4 linked regions of the Homo sapiens genome follow. The protein of the gene in region 1 purifies or fractionates together with the protein of each later gene. This does not show direct contact. Each region holds a gene or a part of one and is shown on either strand. Other genes may lie near its edges.

The links.
Region 2: the proteins of POLR3GL (region 1) and PSMA8 purify together in Homo sapiens (affinity purification with mass spectrometry; one large-scale study listed by BioGRID and IntAct). This does not show direct contact.
Region 3: the proteins of POLR3GL (region 1) and SNX8 purify together in Homo sapiens (affinity purification with mass spectrometry; one large-scale study listed by BioGRID and IntAct). This does not show direct contact.
Region 4: the proteins of POLR3GL (region 1) and TRMT1L purify together in Homo sapiens (affinity purification with mass spectrometry; one large-scale study listed by BioGRID and IntAct). This does not show direct contact.

Annotation. Positions count from the first base shown.
Region 1 is NC_000001.11:145,974,333-145,977,183, forward strand, and holds part of POLR3GL (DNA-directed RNA polymerase III subunit RPC7-like), read left to right. Parts: intron 1-492; 5' UTR 493-533; coding exon 534-659; intron 660-974; coding exon 975-1,104; intron 1,105-2,751; coding exon 2,752-2,820; intron 2,821-2,851. UniProt on the Homo sapiens protein: DNA-dependent RNA polymerase catalyzes the transcription of DNA into RNA using the four ribonucleoside triphosphates as substrates. Specific peripheric component of RNA polymerase III which synthesizes small RNAs, such as 5S rRNA and tRNAs.
Region 2 is NC_000018.10:26,143,466-26,147,487, reverse strand, and holds part of PSMA8 (proteasome subunit alpha-type 8), read right to left. Parts: intron 2,930-4,022; coding exon 2,803-2,929; intron 1-2,802. UniProt on the Homo sapiens protein: Component of the spermatoproteasome, a proteasome specifically found in testis that promotes acetylation-dependent degradation of histones, thereby participating actively to the exchange of histones during spermatogenesis.
Region 3 is NC_000007.14:2,307,753-2,311,774, reverse strand, and holds part of SNX8 (sorting nexin-8), read left to right. Parts: intron 1-1,701; exon of another isoform or gene 1,702-1,722; intron 1,723-1,818; exon of another isoform or gene 1,819-1,918; coding exon of another isoform or gene 1,919-1,970; intron 1,971-4,022. UniProt on the Homo sapiens protein: May be involved in several stages of intracellular trafficking. May play a role in intracellular protein transport from early endosomes to the trans-Golgi network.
Region 4 is NC_000001.11:185,150,275-185,154,296, reverse strand, and holds part of TRMT1L (tRNA (guanine(27)-N(2))-dimethyltransferase), read left to right. Parts: intron 1-2,361; coding exon 2,362-2,472; intron 2,473-3,804; coding exon 3,805-3,918; intron 3,919-4,022. UniProt on the Homo sapiens protein: Specifically dimethylates a single guanine residue at position 27 of tRNA(Tyr) using S-adenosyl-L-methionine as donor of the methyl groups. Dimethylation at position 27 of tRNA(Tyr) is required for efficient translation of tyrosine codons.

The sequences.
Region 1 (2,851 bases):
AAGAATTCAAAGGTTATATGTAGAAATGCAGTTTGTGGCTGGGCATAGTGGTTCATGCCTGTAATCCCAGCACTTTGGGAGGCTGAGGCAGGAGGATCTTGAGCCCAGGGGTTCGAGGCTAGAGTGAACTGTGATTGCACCATTGCACTCAAGCCTGGGTGACAGAGCATCTCTAAAAATAAAAATAAAGAAATGCAGATAGAGATAAACATCAAATTGTCTTAGGGATGTAGAGTTTTGTCCAAAGGTGTCAGCACTTTCTCCTTTGTGCTAAACTATATTGTAATTATCTGACCTGTTTGGGGGACCATGTCTCATTCATGTTTATATTTCCAGAAATTCTCTCTCTGACACTGTGCCTTCTCAGTCAAAATTTGTTGAATGACATTAACTTTTCATGTCCCAGAGATAAAAGATTGAATGTCTTGTACCTCCTTGGCTTCCTGTCCATTCTACTACATTTCTTTTTCTCTTTGTTTTTGTCTTTATTAGGTTTATTCACTGGATCTCTGAATACCCAGGCCCCCTCCACCATGGCCAGCCGGGGTGGGGGCCGGGGTCGTGGCCGGGGCCAGTTGACCTTCAACGTGGAGGCCGTGGGCATTGGGAAAGGGGATGCTTTGCCCCCACCCACCCTGCAGCCTTCTCCACTCTTCCCTGTGAGTCTCTCCACTCCCTTCCCAGACTCTCATGTGCCCCTGGCTGACTGTACATGATTCTGAATTCCTCCTGGACCATCATAAAACCATCCTCGCTTTGGCCCTCTCTCTATACTCCCAATGCACAGGGATGTTTTGCAGGCAAAGAAGTGTCCACCTTTACTTCTCCCCAGCTTTCAAAATAATATGTTACTCCCTCGATTGTCATTTGGCCCTCTGCTCAGTGGGAGTGTTAGACTAAATTGGGAGGAGGGGTCTTCCTAAATTTGTACTAGCATTTTCTCCCTGAACTGACCACTGCCCCTGCCTCTTTAGCCCTTGGAGTTCCGCCCAGTACCTTTGCCCTCAGGCGAGGAAGGGGAATATGTCCTGGCACTGAAGCAAGAGCTACGAGGAGCCATGAGGCAGCTCCCCTACTTCATCCGGCCAGCTGTCCCCAAGAGAGGTCAGTTGGAATGCTAGCATCATATTCTGAGTGCCTTCCATGGGGAGTGCCCTGTGCTCAGCACCACTGGGGGCCAGAGGGGCACAGGAAGCATACTATCTAACTGGGGAGATCATAATAGTTACCCCTGTATCTGAAATGCATTATAGTATTCATGGTTTGTTTTGAGTCTCATGATAGTCTTGGGACAGCAGGAGGTTAAATATTAAAATCCCATTTCACGTGTATAAGTAGGGGGATGTATTTTCTAAAAAATTATATATTTTTTATTTTTTTGTAAAATAGAGATAGGGTGTCCTTATGTTGTCCAGGCTGGTCTTGAACTTCTGGGCTCAAGAGATTCTCCTGCCTTGGCCTCCCAAAGTGCTGGGATTACAGGCATGAGCCACTGCGCCCAGCAAAATTTTTAACAATCTGGATATTATAAGCACCAACCAACAAGAGAATACTGAAATCCTGGTTTCTTATTCCCTAGCATACTTTCCACTGCACCACGCTATTTCTTAATACAGCCATGCCTTTGAACTAAGGGACAGAAAAAAAAAAAATCATCATGGCCGGGTGCGGTGGCTTACGCCTGTAATGGCCAGCACTTTGGGAGGCTGACATGGGTGGATCACTTGAGGCCAGGAGTTTGAGGCCAGCCTAGCCAATACGGTGAAACCCTGTCTCTACTAAAAATATAAAAATTAGCCAGGCACAGTGGTGTGTGCCTGTGGTCTCAGCTACTCGGGAGGCTGAGGCTGAGGCTGAGGCATGAGAATCGCTTGAACCTGGGAGGTGGAGGTTGCAGTGAGCTGAGATCTTGCCACTGCACTCTAGCCTGGGTGACACAGCAAACCTCTGTCTCAAAAAAAAAAGGCCAGGTGTGGTGGCTCACACCTAGAATCCCAGCACTTTGGGAGGCTGAGGTGGGCAGATCACGAGGTCAGGAGTTCAAGACCAGCTTGGCCAACATAGTGAAACCCCGTCTCTACAAAAAATACAAAAAAATTAGCCAGGCCTGGTGGCAGATGCCTCTAATCCCAGCTGCTTGGGAGGCTGAGGCAAGAATTGCTTGAACTTGGGAGGCGGAGGTTGCAGTGGGCTGAGATCACGCCACTGCACTCCAGCCCAGGCGACAGTGCGAGATTCTGTCTGAAAAAAAAAAATCGTAATTTTGGGTGGAAAAGGAACAGGTTAGAAGAGTGATAAGGGGCCGGGCGCAGTAATTCACGCCTGTAATCCCAGCACTTTGGGAGGCCGAGGTAGGTGGATCACGAGGTCAGGAGATTGAGACCATCCTGGCCAACATGGTGAAACCCCGTCTCTACTAAAAATACAAAAATTAGCTAGGCGTGGTGGTGTGTGCCTGTAGTCCCAGCTACTCAGGAGACTGAGGCAGGAGAATCGCTTGAACCTGGGAGGTGGAGGTTGCAGTAAGCTGAGATTGTACCACTGCACTCCAGCCTGAGGGACAGAGCGAGACTCTGTCTCAAAAAAAAAAAAAAAAAAAGTAGATAAGGTCCTCACTGAAGCTGACCCCCTGGGCTCTGGGTTTGGGGTAAGGAAACAGATAATTCCTCAGTATTGAGAGGGCTGGACTCTCAGGAACAGTCCTGTTCTGGGTCTCTGAAGGGATAAAACTTTGACCCTTCCACCCCTCAGATGTGGAGCGTTATTCAGACAAATATCAGATGTCAGGTCCGATTGACAATGCCATCGATTGGAACCCTGGTAGGTGATGGGCCCTTTCATTGACTGCCCT
Region 2 (4,022 bases), on another chromosome or scaffold:
TGTTTATGGCTATAAATTTTCCTATTAGCACTACTTTCAATACATTCCCCAAGTTTTGATATGTTGTGCTTTTATTTGCCTTTCTCTCAAGATATCTGTTCATTTCCCTTGTGATTTTTTTCATTGCCCCATGGGTGATTTAGGAATATATTGCTTAACTCCACGTGTTTGTGGATTTTCACGTCTTCCTTCCACTACTAATTTCTAGTTCCATTCCATTTTGATCAGAAAAAAATACTCTGTATGGTTTCAATCTTTTTTTTTTTTTTTTTTTTTTGAGACAGGGTGATATGGTTTGGATCTCTGTACCCACCCAAATCTCATGTATAACTGTAATCCCCAAAGTTGGAGGTGGGGCCTGATATAAGGTGATTGGCTCATGGGGATGGTTTCTCATGACTAGCTTAGCACTATCCCCCAATGCTGTTCTTGTGATAGAGTTCTAACGAGATCTGATTGTTTAAGTGTATTTGGCACCTCTCCCTTCTCTCTCTCTTCTTCCTGCTCTGGCCATGTGAGATGTCTCACTCCCCCTTTGCCTTCTACCATGATTGAAAGCTTACTGAGGCCGCCCAAAAGCAGAAGCTGCTATGCTTCCTGTACAGCCTACGGAACTGTGAACCAATTAAATATCTTTTCTTTATAAGTTACCCAGTCTCAGGTATTTCTGTTTTGTTGTTGTTGTTTTTCAGGTGTTTCTTTATAGCAATGCAAGAATGGACTGATACATAGGGTCTCACTCTGTTGCCTGGACTGGAATGCAGTGGTGTGATCACAGCTCACTGCAGCCTCAACCTGCTGGGTTCAATGGATCTTCCCAGCCCAGCCTCCCAAGTAGCTGGGACTATAGGCACACGCCACCATCCCCAGCTAATTTTTGTATTTTTTTTGAGATGAAGTTTCACCATGTTGCTCAGACAGGCTCGAACTTTTGGGCTCAAATGATCTGCCTGCCTCAGCTTTCCAAGATCTTGGGATTACAGGTATGAGCCACTATGCCTGGATGCTTCAATGTTTTTATATTTATTAAGACTTGTTTTGTGAAAAGATAATTCCTTCTTAAAGACAGCACAATAAAGGCATTTTTGTTTTTCTGAATGAGGTTTTAATTTTTTTATTTTTTAAGAGATAGTATCTTGCTCAGTTGCCCAAGCTGAACTCAAACTTCTAAGCTCAAGTAATTCTCCTGCCTCGACCTCCTGAGTAGGTGCAATTACAGATGTGCACCATCATGTGTGGCTTGAATGAGATTGTTAAACTTCAATATAAAATTACAGTTAAAAAAAAAAAACCCAATCAGAAGATGAGGAAAAAAAAAAAGACAAGAGGCATGTCTTATTTGCTGTATAGGGGCAAATAAGCACATAAAAATAAGTTCAAAATTATTAGCCGTGAGGGAAATAAAAATTAAACTTACAATTAGATATCAGTACACATGTATAAGAATATAAAAAAATGAAGAAAAGCAACAATAGCAAATGCTGATAACACAGAGCAAATGAATCACTCATATATTGCTAGTTGGAATTTAAAATAGTATAACCACTCTGGACTGGCAGTGTTTCATAAAACTAAGCATGGATTATCATATAATCCAGCAACTATACTCTTAGGAATTTGTCCCAGAGAAATGAAATCCTACTTTCACTCAAAAATCTGTAAACAAATATTCATAGAGGCATTATTTACAATAGTCAAAAATTGGAAATAACCCAAATGTCCCTCAATAGGAGAGTTAACAAACCCACTGGTGCCTTTATTCCATGGAATACTACTCAGTAATAAAAAGGAATGGATATATGCAACAACTTGCATGAACTGCAAGGGAATTATGCTGAATAAAAAAGATTAATCTGAAAGGGTTATATATTATATAACTTTATCCATATAACATTCTCAAAATGACAAAATTATAGAGATACAGAATAGATAGCAGTTTCCAGAAAGTAGAGATGGTGAGAAGAAATAGCATGAGGTAGTCTTGTGGTGATGGAAGAGTTATGTATCTTGAGTGTGGTGATGACTACATGAATCTACATATGTGGTTAGTGTAATAAAACTGCACACAGAGGCCGGGCGCGGTGGCTCACACCTGTAATCCCAGCACTTTGGGAGACTGTGGCGGGTGGATCACCCGAGGTCAGGAGTTCAAGACCAGCCTGACCAACATGGAGAAACCCCGTCTCCACTAAAAATACAAAATTAGCCGGGTGTGGTGATGCATGCCTGTAATCCCAGCTACTCGGGAGGCTGAGGCAGGAGAATTGCTTGAACCCGGGAGGTGGAGGTTGCAGTGAGCAGAGATCGCGCCATTGCACTCCAGCCTGGGCAACAAGAGTGAAACTCTGTCTCAAAAATAAAAATAAAAACAAAAACAAAAAACTACATACATGTACATGAACATGCAAGTGAATGCATGTAAAACTGGCAAAATCTGAATACACTCTCAGCAAATGTCAATTTACTGGTTTTGAAGATGTTACCATTTAGGGAAACTGTGTAAAGGGGACTTTCTATGTTTTTGGTAGCTTCTTCTAAATCTGTAATTATTTAAAAATAAAAAGTTTTGAAAAGAAAATAGCTACCTAAATTTTGAAGTAAAGTAATATATATCTTTTAACATTTGTACTTTATCAAAAATCCTGGTTTACAAAGTTAGTATTTGCTTTAAAACGTAGGATATATTGTTTGTAGAACAACTCCACATGTTTTATAAATATAGCACAACTGCAGCACTGAGGTTAACTGTGTTGCCCTACTACAGTAAGACACTATGCATCATTATTGTAGGACCTTAAGTACCTGCAAAAGCCATGCAGACATGGTCATCAAGGGCACAAATTTTCCTCACAGTTCTTTCATCTTGAAGCTTGGCAACAGATTTTTTTTCTACCCCAAGAACAACTATATTGGTACCTCGAATTCCGACCTGTCAAGTCATTAAAATACATATATATTCAGATGTCAGTTTAAAATATAAAACCAAGTTATTCTAACATATGACTTAGGGGAAATGACTTCTCCTTAAGTATTCAATAAAAACAAGAAAAGTAACTTTCTAGAAAACAGCTTCATAGGTATAGGCTTACTGGAGATCCATTCCCCAGACTCAAAGCAAGGAAGACAAATAGGTAGAAATTGCAAAGAAAATACCACCAATGCTGAAATTATGAGTGTCCTAATCTCATACAATACACCTGAAAAAAGCACTATCTAAATACGGTAAGTTCTCAATGTCATTGACAGGTTCTTGAAAATTGCAACTATAAGCAAATGATGTATAATGAAACCAATTTTATCACACCCCAATTAATATAAACAGGAGTTAGGTTCATATGAAATATTTCTGGTCACAAAAACATCCCCAAACTTCTAAACAAATACCTAAAACACCTCTAATATTAAACACTGAAATAAATGTGAGCTGTATATATAACAAACACTAACAAAAACAAGTATGATAAGGCTGGGCACGGTGGCTCACAGCACTATAATCCTAGCACTTTGGGAGGCTGAGGCAGGAGGACGACTTGAGGTCTGGAGTTCGAGACCAGCCTGGCCAACATGGTGAAACCCCGTCTCTACTAAAAACACAAAAATTAGCCGGGCATAGTGGCAGGCACCTGTAGTCCCAGCAACTCAGGAGGCTGAGCCAGGAGAATCGCTGGAACCCAGGAAGCAGAGCTTGCAGTAAGCAGAGATTGCGCCACTGCACTCCAGCCTGGGCAACAGAGCGAGACTCAAGCTCAAAAAAAAAAGAAAGTATGATAATTATTTATCCAATTTTTGGTGAATCCATGAGTGACAGCAGTCATAGTGGTGGTGGGTTAAATCAAAGAATAAACGTTTGCAAAGCAAAAATTTTAAAGAGCATCTCCTACCACCATTCAGTTCAAAAACAAACAATAAGGTCTACGACAAGCTCACTAAGTGCTTTCATACCTCGTTGTTTACTGTTGTGCATCTGTATGATTATTATATACTTTATAAATTTTTATTTTATAATAATTTGTATTCATTCA
Region 3 (4,022 bases), on another chromosome or scaffold:
TAGTAGAGACGGGGTTTCACCATGTTAGCCAGGATGGTCTCGATCTCCTGACCTCGTGATCTAGCCGCCTCGGCCTCCCAAAGTGCTGGGATTACAGGCGTGAGCCACCGCGCCCGGCCTCGCAGGTCTTTTTACATTGAGAAAACTAAAATCCAGAGGTAAGTAATTTGCCCAAAGTGGGCAATGTCAAGGGAATGTGTGTTGATGGGGACCCTGATTGGGTGGGCTGGAGTGAGAAAACCTCAGCCTTGAGACCAAGCACTGTGGCTCACGTCTGAAATCACAGCACTTGGGGAGGCTGAGGAGGGAGGATCGCCCGAGCCCAGGCGCTAGAGACCAGCCTGGACAACGTAGCGAAATCCTGTCTCAAATTTTTAAAAAAGAAAACAAAAACAAAAACAGCAAAGAAAAAAGTTAAGTCTCTGAATATTGTCCGGAGACTATGTGTGTGACTTACACGTTCACTAAGGTTGGTTTGAAGGAGTGGTTGTGCCTTACGGGTATACAGTGAATTTCCTCTTCTCTAGAGTTTTGGCCACACAGCCAGAGCCCACTGGTGGTATTCATGTGGGAACTGTGAAATCTCCTGCATCTTCGGTGTTGCCAGAAAAAAATGTGCTTGTTGTACTTTTCCACATTAAGAGTCTCATTCTATTTGAATTCTTTGAAGCTTAAGCTGTGAATGCTCTCTAGGGCAACCCTCTTTATAAAAACTTAATTTTCAGTTATGCCATACATGGACAAATGTATTTTCTTTAAAAAAGAATAGAACATTGTAGATTAAGTGAAAGTCCCATCCTAATTGCCATCATCTCCTGTCTGTACCTGAGAGGTGACCATTGTTCTCAGTTTGGGATGGACCGTTTTAGTTCTGTTTTCACATTTTATTCATATATGTACTCAGGAAACATATACTTCCTTATATAAGTGTGCTCATGTTTCCCTAGCGTAGTATATTCTCTAGCTTTCTTTTGTTCCTTTTATTTTTATTTATTTATTTTTTTGAGACGTAGTTTCACTCTTTTGCCCAGGCTGGAGTGCAGTGGTGCGATCTTGGCTCACTGCAAGCTCCACCTCCTGGGTTGACGCCATTCTTCTTTCTGCCTCAGCCTCCTGAGTAGCTGGGACTACAGGTGCCTGCCACCACACCTGACTAATTTTTTGTATTTTTAGTAGAGATGGCATTTCACCGTGTTAGCCAGGTTGGTCTTGATCTCCTGACCTCATGATCTGCCTGCCTCGGCCTACCAAAGTGCTGAGATTACAGGGGTGAACCACTGCGCCCAGCCACGCCTGGCCAATTTTTAAAATTTTTTGTAGAGACAGTCTGGCTGTGTTGCCCAGGCTGGTGTGGAACTCCTGGCCTCAAGCAATCCTCCCACCCGGGCCTCCCAAAGTGCTGGGATTTCAGGCATGAGGCACCGAGCCTGGCTGGATTTTATATTGAAACTATTCCTGTCAAAATATCTGATTGACCGGAACATTCTGTCCTCTGACTATGCAGGATAAGGGTTTTTTTCAGGGCCTGTTCTTAGGTCATGAAGCTCAATGATTGTGACATCCAGCGAGAACGGCAGTGAGTGTGGTAAGTGTGCTTGGTCGTCCAGCCTGATTTCTCGGGATCGATTAATACATGGATAGAAATATGTACAGATGACCACGGCGTATCCTGGCTCTGCCGTATACAGTCCTGCGGCCCTACATTGACTCTTTAGAACGAGGGTGAGTCACGCTTCACTTGCGGCTCATCCCATGGCATTCCATACATTCCATTCGGTTCGGAAGCTCCGTGCTGTTTGTCCGCGTTGACCTGGCGATGACTCCTTGAGTGTCATTGAGGCAGGTCCAGGGCCTTTGCTGACCCTCGGGGCTCCTTCACCCCTGCCCCGAGCCTTCCCCTCTTGCCTGGGCGACTTCCATGCACCCTGGGCTCCCATCAACCCTTACCTGCAGCTGCTCGCTCATGTCAGGTCTGTTCTCTGTGTGAATACGTTGGTCAGAATTCATTGCGCTGTCACTTAAAGTTTATACTTTTTTTTTTTTGAGATGGAGTCTCGCTCTTGTTGTCCAGGCTGGAGTGCGATGGCGCGATCTCGGCTCACCGCAACCTCCTCCTCCCGGGTTCAAGCAATTCTCTTGCCTCAGCCTCCTGAGTAGCTGGGATTACAGGCATGCGTCACCACACCTGGCTAATTTTGTATTTTCAGTAGAGACGGGGTTTCTCCATGTTGGTCAGGCTGGTCTCGAACTCCCAACCTCAGGTGATCTGCCCACCTTGGCCTCCCAAAGCACTGGGATTACAGGCGTGAGCCACCGCGCCCGGCTGGTTCTGGTGATTCTTGTGCCTCAGCCTCCCCAGTAGCTGGGATTACAGGCGTGTGCCACCACACCTGGCTAATTTTTGTATTTTTAGTAGAGACGAAGTTTCGCCATGTTGGCCAGGAAGGATGATCTCAAACTCCTGACCTCATGTGATCCACTTGCTTTGGCCTCCCAAAGTGCTGGGATTACAGGGGTGATCCACCCCACTGGGCCTATTTATACATTTTGAGCAGGGTGTGGTGGCTCACACCTGTAATCCTAACACTTTGGGAGGTTAAGGCAGGAGGATCACTTCAGGCCAGGAGTTTGAGGCCAGCCTGGGCAATAGAGTGAGACCCCATCCCTATTTAAAAAAAAGATTTGTGTCTGGGCCTGGTGGTTCACGCCTGTAATCCCAGCACTTTGGGAGGCCGAGGTGGGCGGATCACCTGAGGTCAGGAATTCAAGACCAGCCTGGCCAACATGGTGAAACCCCGTCTGTACAAAAATCCAATAATTAGCTGGGCATAATGGCGAGTGCCTGTAATCCCAGCTACTCGGGAGGCTGAGGTGGGAGAATTGCGTTAACCTGGGAGGCAGAGGTTGTAGAGGTTGTAGTGAGCCGAGATGGTGCCGCGCTGCAGCCTGGTTGACAGAACAAGACTCCAGCTCAAAAAAAAAAAAAAAAAAAAATTTGTTCATTTTATGGTGATTAAATTATGCCCCACAGTATTGTTTGCATTAGGGACAAAACCTTCTGCCCCATTTCGCTCCCTTCCATGACCCTTTTTTTTTTTTTTTTTTTTTTGAGACAGAGTCTCACTCTGTTGCCCAGGCTGGAGTGCAGTGGTGCCATCTAGCCTCACTGCAACCTCCATCTCCTAGGTTCAAGTGACTCCTGCCTCAGTCTCCCCCGTAGTTGGGATTACAGGCGTGTGCCACCATGCCCAGCTAATTTTTGTATTTTTAGTAGAGTCGGGGTTTTACCATGTTGACCAGGCTGGTCTCGAACTCCTGACTTCAGGTGATCCGCCCGCTGCAGCCTCCCAAAGTGCTGGGATTACAGGTGTGAGCCACCGTGACTGGCCATGACACATATTTTGGTAGTAAACTCCTGATGAGCAAACTTATTTTTATTTTTTTTACAAGTTTATTTTGTTTATATAGTTTTGTTACTTTTTTCTTTTTTTAATTCTGGCTCTCTCCAGAAAACAGAAACCTATTTTTCTTTAACCACAGTATCTAGAATACTATCTGCTATGTAGCAGAGTCTCAAATATTTGAATAGAATTACATTTTTATAAATTTTTGTATTATATTTCTTATGTGATAAGACTTGACAACACTGCAAATATGTTTTGTTACTGGTCTTTAAACTTGCTCATCCTCTCTCTCTCTCTGTCTCTCTCTCACACACACACACACGCACACATACACAATTTGCAAGGTAAAACGTGTCAATTTGAAGAAAGAGGAACTAACTGAATCACTGTTATGTAGAACAGATTTTGCCAGAATTTGTGGTTAGCAAGAAAGTGATGTGTTCCGGGTAGGGGAATTCTGTTTTGGTATTATTTTGTCTTTCCTGAGAAAAGCATCACAAAAAGAGATGTTTGCCCATCCTGTTTGCTGGGGTAGTGGGAAGAGACCGGGGGTGATGGTGGTGCTGGCTGGACGTGGGTGGTTTCACAGGACCTGCTGTGTCTGAGAGGAGCCATGCG
Region 4 (4,022 bases), about 39 Mb from region 1:
GCTTGAGCCCAGGAGTTTGAGGCTGCAGTGAGCTATGATTGAGCCACTACATTCCATGGAGGCTGGGTGACAGAGCAAGACCCATCTTTAAATAATAATAATATGAAAAATTACCTTTTAATAAATTTGAGCAGGAGTGTCTGATAGTGCTGAATTGGATTCCAAAATTATTGACACAGTGTGCTACTGCATCCAAAAAGTCTAACAATTTTTTTAACTTCTTGTTTAACAAACTTTAGTGCCTCCTATCTGCAAGCTACTGCATTAGGCACTTAGCCATCAGAAAGATGAACAAGAAATAGGCCTTGTCTTCTGTTGATTATTTGTGGGGAAAGCGAACAAGGACACAAATTATACAAATGGGTAAACGAACTGATAGTGAAGCTCGGAGAGGAGTAGTCAAGAAGGTGCTAATATCAAGAATTGAATTTTAAAGTCTCAAGGTTTTAAATTGTATAACCTAATAACATAATATTAGAGAGCCCTGTGGTTTATCCCACCATCTCCTGTCTCCTTGGGCTCTTTACATATCAGTTTCTCCTAATCTTAATATATATTCAGTCCCCACTTTGTAATTGTTCCTTTCTCTTGGAATGCACATATATTCAGGTTCCCCATACTTAAAAAAAAGCAAGTTACAGTCTGATTCATTTCCTTTTTTATACCGTCAAACTTCTCAAAAAAAGAAAAACCTAATTTTCTGTATTTCCTTTCCCCTTCCAATTCTGTTTCTACTCTGAAACACCTCCCTGAACCTGTTTTCTTAAAGGTCACCAGATGTGCTTTCTTGATCTCTACAACTGTTTGTGATATTCAGTGTTGAACGTTTTGCGTTTATAGACTCTTCTCCCTTGGCTTCTGCATTACCTTGATTCCCCTTACCATTTATTCTTTCTGAATCTACATTCCTGATTCCTTCTACTTAATTTTTCTTATAAATATCTACATCTCTCATACCTCACTACCAGATTATATCTATCTATAATAATCAGTAGCGGGTTCAGCAACAGGTAGGGAATGTATCCCCTACCCACCCCAGTCAGAACATGTTAAACTTATTTTAGACTTATTCATGTATTTCCAAATTTAATTTAATTTGAAGAGTGTGTAATGCTTGAGAAACCTGAAAATGCATTAGTGGGACAAATATGTAATGATTGAGAAATTTGAAATGCATTAGAATTAAAATATAAATCACATTTTAAAATTAATTTTACATAGCCTAGTTGGTTGTTTGAAATCAGTCATAACTAGGTAAGACTGGGTCTTGGCTTTTTCTCTTATTTTTCACACTTTTTTTCTTAGGCTTTCTTATTTATTCTCATAGTTTCACCTAATGTGTTACTTACGATTTGTATCTCTAGAATCCCTCCTGAGCTCCAAAAACAAATTGCCAGCTGCCTATTATACATTATTGCTGGAATACTGTACCAGTAGTACATCAAACACACCATGTCAAAAACTAAATTTTCCTTTCTCTTTTCCCCTTCCTTTCTGCCATAAGAGTTTCTTCTGTCTTGTTTGCTTAATATACCATTATTCTCAACCACATAAACTCAAAATCTTGGAATCATCTTTGATTTTATCCTTCACCTTTACTTCTCATATCCCAAGTTCTGTTGCTTATTTTTTTAACCTTCTATTCTGTCCCTTCCCATTGCTAATTTTCTCTGTTACTGATCTTTGGTATTACTGGCAGAGATAGCCTCCTGAAACTCATTCAGATCGTATAATTCACTTCCTCAAAAACCTGCAGAGACTTACCATTATTTGAAGAATAAAGTTCAAACTAACTTGCGTAGAATTTATGTTTTCCTTGGTCTGTACTGCATCTTCAGCTGCACATACTTCTACTGACTCCATCCCCCCAAACATACCACATTCCAGCCAAGGGTGGGGTGGCATGGTTGTATGTTTTCTACACATGGATTTGTTCATGAGGTTACTTCAGTTCATGAGGCCAGTTAGCAAATCTCTACTTAATAGTGTTCATTTCATCCTATCTCATATGATAGTTAGAAGTTGACATATTGCCTTCTCCCACCTGATTGAAAGTTCTTTGAAGATAGAAAACATGACTTAACGTTTCCTTCAGTATTTTGTATAGGACAGAAACATTTTTCATAGAATTATTTTGACTAATTAGATAAAATTTTAAAACTAAGTTTATACAGTGGGGTCTCCCCCCAACTTTTCATTCTAAAGCACACTTGTTATTTTATAAACCGAGTTGTGGCAGTATTCCCCATCTAGGTCCATAACACTGTGTTATAGGAAATAAACTTCTATACGATGTGATCAATAAAAATGGAACTAGAATACAAACTGTTAAAGCATAATCTTCTCAATTTTTTTTTTCAGAGAGACACATCTCAATTCAAAGGCAGCTTGCTGATCTAGAGAATTTAGCTTTTGTAACTGATGGAAATTTTGACTCTGCCAGCTCATTGAACTCAGATAATCTTGATGCAGGTATTTCCATGTTTGGGTTTTTTTTTTTTCTTAGTTTCTAATAATTTATCATCTTTCAATTCACAAAAATAAGTTTGGTAAGAGTAGACTTGTTTATTCTTACTGAACTAGAACAGTGGTAAAATACAGTTTTTTATTCAGGAAATTGGCAACCGCTTATGTGCAAAGTTGCTATGGAAATAAGTTATTTTACAACTCCTCAAGAAAATTATAATTTCACGGATGTCTAGGGGCTGTCTATTCGGCAAGTTAGGAATGGCATTTGGCTACAAGTAACAGAGGTCCCAAAAAACAGTGTCTTAAGAGGTTAATATTCTGTCAGGTAAATGAAGTCCCAAGATAGGCAATTTAGGGCTGGTATGAGAGTTCCACGTTATCAGTGCCCCACACTGCTCTCTTTCTGCTCTACTCTCCTTAGTGTTTGGTTTGTATCCTCAAGATCGCTGACTGCGTGGTTTTTTTGAAGTAGACAGTGTAAAAATAAAAATTGTACCTATACTCTATTGTACTGTATGTGAAAGATATTTGTTGGGTTAAAAATTATTAATATGAGCTGACAGGTATGTAGGTATAAGAGAAAAAAGAAAAAAATTACTAAATGAGTTATTAATGATTCTTGCTGTATATTTTATTGCTTTAAACCTGAATTTGAAATTTAATTCTTTCATCTATACTATCAAAGTTTTTATTTGAGATACATTATATTTCTAATTAAATAAGACATTTTTATGATACATAATCTTTTTGAGAATATGTTAATAAAGAAGGCAGAACTTGTAAATTCAGTAATGGATACGGTGGCTGTAACTATGCGCCCCGTCTCAGAACAGCGGTTATATCAAATCCCATCTATTCCTTCCACTTCCTTCTTCCATTTTTCTAACTCCACATGTTAACTGTTTTTGTTGTTGCCAGTTTAGTAGAGGAATACCACAGCACATACTTTTGCTCTTTGTCCAATCCCTGTCCTTTTGGGAGTGTAACTGCTGTCCTTTCAGCTGTCCAAAATACAGAGTGATGCTCTCAGTGGCAGAAAATTTGGCCGGAAGGATGTCATACAGTTTATCACTTCTTCAACCTTTGTTCCCAGTAACGACAAATGCATCCACTAGCTACAGAGAGGGAAATTTTAGGGTGAAAAAACAATCACTGATCATGTGCTGCAACAATTACTGTTAACTGTCTCCTGGGTCAAGAATAATGACTTCTCCCTAAAGTTAAGAAAGACTTTAAGAAGTAGGAGGGGGAGCCCCCATTAACCTCTTTGTAGTTGAATCCAGGCATTAATAACTAGAATATTCTGTTGTTTATTGATTCTTTTTTCTTTTTAAGGCAACAGACAGGCTTGTCCATTGTGCCCTAAGGAAAAATTCAGAGCTTGTAATAGCCATAAGCTTCGTCGTCACCTCCAGAATTTACACTGGAAAGTCTCAGTTGAATTTGAAGGTTAGTATTTTTGTGCTTGCAAAGAAGTAATATATATGAAATTCAACATTTATTACCAGTTTTGGCATTTTTATCATGAGTATAATCAAATATTTTCAGTTTAA